Linked DNA regions of Homo sapiens: region 2 is linked to region 1. The links come from fine-mapping of genetic effects on gene expression. A gene starts in region 1. The other region holds a variant in brackets. All regions are shown on one strand. Distances are between the middles of the regions.

The links. PIP is the estimated chance that this variant, and not a neighbour inherited with it, causes the effect.
Region 2: its variant is fine-mapped to the expression of LDAH in whole blood (INTERVAL, PIP 0.98).

The regions. Positions count from the first base shown.
Region 1 is chr2:20,821,591-20,824,503 of GRCh38, reverse strand. It overlaps LDAH (lipid droplet associated hydrolase), which reads left to right and starts at 1,403. Exons shown (of 7, transcript NM_021925.4): 1 at 1,403-1,467. RefSeq lists enhancers at 1,220-1,609, 1,830-1,899, 1,702-2,527.
Region 2 is chr2:20,682,818-20,685,730 of GRCh38, reverse strand. It overlaps LDAH (lipid droplet associated hydrolase), which reads left to right. Exons shown (of 7, transcript NM_021925.4): 7 at 1-1,700. Among named protein-coding and RNA genes, the nearest start is that of GDF7, 17 kb to the right of the region's middle. The variant G/A (reference allele first, on the strand shown) is at 1,538.

The sequences.
Region 1 (2,913 bases):
TGTGACACTGCACAAAAAACTCTAACCAGAACTGAGCAGATGCTCACACTATGCCCCTTGAGCTTTCCAATGTGCAGAACCATGAGCTAAGTAAACCTCTTTTTTAAATCCAAGCATACTTTGAAGATATTGGGGGTTCAGTTCCATACTACCACAATAAAGCAAACATCACAATAAGGCAGTTCACAGAATTTTTTTGGTTTCCCAGTGCATATAAAATTTATATTTACACTGTACTGTAGATTATTGTGTACAACAGTATTATGTCTAAAAAAAGTACATACTAAGAAAAGAAAAATAGCCCAGAGCTGTCTGAGCTATGTGAGGTATGCAAAATTTATTAGACCCGGACAGAAGTGAATACTGGCTTCCGCCACGCCTTCCCATGCCTTAGGGCAATTGTTAAAGGCATTTTGTTCTTTATTAGCTGCCTCACCCATTATCTTTATGTTCCTGGAATTTGTGATACAAGGAAGAAAGCATAGCCAGTCAATAGCTTAAGTTTTTTAAATATAAATTCTTGGTAAACAAGTTAAGCTCTGCCTCCTCTCCTTTCCTTAAAAACCGGCTCACGCCTGTAATCCCAGCACTTTGGGAGGCCGAGGCGGGTGGATCATGAGGTCAGGAGATCGAGACCATCCTGGCTAACAAGGTGAAACCCCGTCTCTACTAAAAATACAAAAAATTAGCCGGGCGCGGTGGCGGGCGCCTGTAGTCCCAGCTACTCGGGAGGCTGAGGCAGGAGAATGGCGTGAACCCGGGAAGCGGAGCTTTCAGTGAGCCGAGATTGCGCCACTGCGGTCCGCAGTCCGGCCTGGGCGACAGAGCAAGACTCCGTCTCAAAAAAAAAAAAAAAAAAAAAAAAAAACCTACTCCGACTGCTGCTAATTGGAGTGTATATTCAAGGCAACTTGAATCTAAGCTCCTGAGTGGCCATTCTCAAGCACTGAGCCCAAATAAACTCTATACTTAATATTATTCTCTGAATTTTCTTAAAGTTGGCAACACCTTAATTAAAAAAATACTTTATTGATCATGCTTATGAACATGATCAAATGAGAATCAACTTTCCTGTGTATGTGGGGAAGATATGCAACTAGTAACGCAGAAAGAGGGAAATGGGAAGAGGGAGAAAAGAGGGGCAGACATGGAACAAATGAGAGAGAAGGAAAGGGAAGCCAGAAGCCAGAAGCACATCAAGGATGACAGAAAATAAAAGGCGGATAAAATTCAAATGAAAAAGAAAGGAAAACCCCGACACCCTCCAAGAGGTCTCTCTGATCTGGACCACCGGCTCCAAGCCAGTAAGAAATCTCCCAGCCAGCTGTGCGCCGCGCGCCAGGCTGACATCGGCTTCCCGGATCAGCTCCGGCGCGGTACTGTGACGTCACCTGAGGGGGGCACTTCCGGTCTCGTGCCGCCTTCCCAGGACCCTCAGGGAGAGCGGGCAGCCTTCCAGGTGGACAGGTGAGGTACAGCTTGCCGAGCTCAGGGTGACTGCCCAAAGGAAGGACGGGTGGGCAGGCACGCGGGATCTGGCGCCCCTTCTTCTCTATGGTTCCTCGCAGAGCCCCTGTTGCCCTGGGCCAGATGGCCCGTAGCAGCAAAAATAATACTGTTCCGACAGCTCGCGAGTTCGGAGCCACTTGGCCTGGGAGTCCCTTGAGTTGCAGGCCGGGCAGTCGCTCACCCGAGCGCGGTAATGCAGCATTTGAACCCCTAAGTGTAGCCCACCTGTAGGGAGTCTTATGGTGCCCCCGCGGAGGAGTAGAGGCCAAAAAGTTGGGCAGCTGGCCGGGAAGAACTCGCTAGGAGGGGTCAAACTCTGGGCCGGGAGTGTTCTTTGCCCCCGGCGTTTAGTGCTCACGCCGCCTTTTATTCACGCTGAAGACCTTAACCGTAAACCCTCATCCTTGGGTCTTAGTTTGGTTTTGTTCCCCACGCAAGACAGAATGCAGATTGGAACACTTTATTCCTTGGTTAATTCGTATCTTCCCTCGCAAGTAGTTACCGGACACCTGCTTTGTGTCCTGTGTACCAAACACAAGAGTTGATAGTCCTGGCCGGGCGCCGTGGCTCACGCCTGTAATCCCAGCACTTTGGGACCCCGAGGCGGGCGGATCAGGAGGTCAGGAGATCGAGACCATCCTGGCTAACACGGTGAAACCCCATCTTTACTAAAAATACAAAAATAAATACATAAATAAATAAATTAGCCGGGCGTGGTGGCGGGCGCCTGTAGTCCCAGCTACTCGGGAGACTGAAGCAGGAGAATGGCGTGAACCCGGGAGGTGGAGCTTGCAGTGAGCCGAGATGGCGCCACTGCACTCTAGCCTGGGCGACAAAGTGAGACTCAGTCTCAAAAAAAAAAAAAGAGTTGATAGTCCTTGAGTTGAAAGAACAAATCTGTATGGAGAAAGAGATACAACCAAAAGAAACCCAGAAGATTTAGAAGCATCTCCAGAATGTTTATTCTCAAAAGCTGTTTTTTAATTAAACTTCTTTCTGAAACTATACGTAGGAGTGTCTCTTGTGTGTTTCCCCATTTTTCCACCTGAAGGTTAAAGACTTAGAAACCTGCTAAGGCCCCTCTTTCCAGCATGTAGCATTCTAGGGGGATAATCAGGGCAACACAGTGGGTGCCCATCTAAAATTTTATATTTTAATATTTTGCTTTTTGATAACTTAATGCCTTCAGACTGGAGGATTTTTTCTTTCTTTTTTTTAATTTTTTTAAAATTATACTTTAAGTTCTAGGGTACATATGCACAACGTGCAGGTTTGTTACATATGTATACATGTGCCATGTTGGTGTGCTGCACCCATTAACTTGTCATTTACATTAGGTATATCTCCTAATGCTATCCCTCCCCACTCACCCCACCCCACAACAGGCCCCGGTGTGTGATCTCC
Region 2 (2,913 bases), 140 kb after region 1:
TTGACTCAATCTTGAGAACCACATACTGCAGTGACAGTTGATCATGGATCAGAAATATTCCTTTTTCTCCTAGAGGAAATCCCTCATGGCATTATCATTCCCTAAGGACAATGAGATGTCCCTCCGCTCAAATCCTAAAGCCCCCTGATGAAAGATTTGGCTCTGATTTGCTGCCAACTTATTGGTAAGTGCTGAATGAGTTACTGTGCTTTGGCATAGCTTCTACATCACAGCAAGTGACTTCTCAGAGGGGAAAAGCCAAGCTCCAGACAAGGAGTGCTGTTAGCCCAAGGGGAAGAGCTAATAGATACATAGGCCGTAAGCACAGGGCTGTACACAGATCCTTTATTGGCATCTGCATGAGAGGCCTAGAAATCGGATGTTAGAAGCTAGGAATCATGGCTCTGAGCGCCTTGCATACAGGAGATACTCACTGATACTAAATCAAGGCATGTAAACAATACTGGGTAAATCATACCTACCAGAATAAAGAGTAACATTCAGAGCTTTTCTTTTATCTGTTATTTTAAATGTTACTCCATATTTCAAAAGTCTGCACGTATGAAATTGTGTCTTATTTCTGGTTTTTAGAGCCTAAGAAAGATACTCATTCTTAATTCCTATTTATCATCTGAAAACCAAATGAATTTTTGAAATAAATGTTTTACCAGCATTTCTGACCTGGTCTGGCCTGATCTCTGTGTTGGGCAAGAGAGGGTACAATTTGAGCAGTTCTCCTGAGTTAGACTCGGCTCAAAGTCTCTCTTTTAAAGTGAAAAGCCACCTTTCTCATTGCTTTTTTCATAGGTGGAAGAATCAGATTTCAAGAGACTGAAGTTCATTCTGTTTCATTAGGGATTAGACTAAAATGGACAAACAGTGGAAGAAATCCATTTTCCAGAAGCAGCTCTGCCTGTATGTCCCAGTCAACCACATGGATGGTCTTTGTGAAAGTTTTAACTTCCTGCAGAGTTACCGAGTGCTCAGCGATTGAGCTTTGACCACACCCGTGTTTGTTCCTAGTCTGTTCCCAGCCATAAGCATCTCCACAAGCCCTCTGTGGCTTGTGTGGCCTGATGTCCATGGCCACCAAGGGCCTCTCACCATACGCTTCTCCACTCAACCTTTGGAGAGACACGGACCACCAAAGGCTTGATTTTTCTTCATCCTACATTATATTCAAAACAAACAGGCTGGGTGCCGTAGCTCACACCTGTGATCCCAGCACCTTGGGAGGATGAGCTGGGAAGATCGTTTGAGGCTAGGAGTTTGAGACCAGCCCGTGCAAAAAACGAGACCTCGTGTCTAAAATAATTTTTAAAAAAGAGCAAAAAAAAAAAGCAATTTCAGATTAAAGGAGACTGAAGAGACATGACAATTGGACACAACATCTGATTCTGAATTGGATGTTTTTGTTATAAAAGACATTGTTGAGACAATTTGCACAACTTGAATGAGGTCTGAAGATTAGCTGGGAGTAAGATGCCACTGTTAATTTTCTGATTTCAGTGGTTGTACTGGGAAGAAGTAAGAGAGT[G/A]TCCTTGTTTGTACTGGAGACACTGAGGTATCTGGGGGTGAGGGGCATCATGTCTGTTTACTGTCAGATGGTTGAGGGGAAAATAATGTTCTTTGTACTTGCAGATTTTTTGGAAGTTTGAGATGTTTTAGAATTTGTAAAAATAATTATTTTTAAAACCCCACCATGCTATCTCCTGCATCCGTGTCTCATTGCTTCTTTTCCAAAAAGGCTATTTCCTCTTGTACGCAGTAAATGAAGACCTGGGTTCAAATCCCAGATCTGTCATTTGTTAGGTTTGTGACATAAGACTTCACTTCACCTCCCTGAGTCCCCCAGCTCCTCATTTTTTTTTTAATGGAGATAAAATGAGGTCATGCATATAGCATTTAGTATGTTGCCTGGCATATGGTGGATTCTCTATAAAATGGTACCTAAAGGAGGATAGCAAACTTGTTTTTCCTTTTTTCCTTTCATTTCTCTTCTCTTTAGTGTAGCAGAGGACCCTGTGGTATCTCAGTCCCTGCACTGTTTCACCAGGCTTGTAACTTGATTCTAGCAGTCAGCATTTTGGCTCTTACGCAGGGATAACACTTGCTCACCTGGCTCAGCTTTCTGGCCTCAGCCCATTCAGGCCTCCCTGCACACAGCCCAGGATGTTCTAACAGTCGATTTAGAAAAGATGCGGGAAGCAAAGCATTTCTTAGATGGCTTGAGACATCTTCATCCCTGGCCTTCTCTTGCAGAAGAGAAGAGGCAAGGATATATTTGGGCTGCTCCTTCCCTTAGGGGTGGGCCTTAAGGAGAGGTTGGAGGCTGGGACTGAGTGTGCTCTGTGAACAAATACATCTGTGGGACCTTGAATGAAGCTCTTCTGCAGGAGTGCTGAGGACAGCAAAGCTCATATGAGTGTTCTTCTAATCACTTTTTAAGAGGATTGAGATTCCTGCCTGTGCCCCATACAGACATGGGTAAGTGATCACATTGGCCCAGGTGAGGAGTGTCTGTGGGACATGGGTCTGGCCTCTCCCACCAGGCTGAAGGCATCTCTAGAGCAAGACCGGCGTCACTGAGTGTGATGCTGGGTGAGCATCCTCAGAGCACGAACGAGGGTCAAAGAAAGCTCTGGGTGGTTCTATGGTTCTATAAAGGGTTCTATAAAGACAAAGCTCTTGGAAGAGAGAAGAGGATGAGGTTGCCCCTAGTCCTAGAAGGGCAGGTAGAACTTGGATAGGTGGTTTGGAATAGATGAGAGCTAATCCAGATAAGGAGTATGCTGCTCACCCCAGCACCTTCACAGTGTCTCACTTAGGCCTCCCAATCCTGTGATGTTCTGACTATGCCCATTATACAGATTACCACTGAGGTGCCTTGCTAAGGACCTCACAGTTAATAGA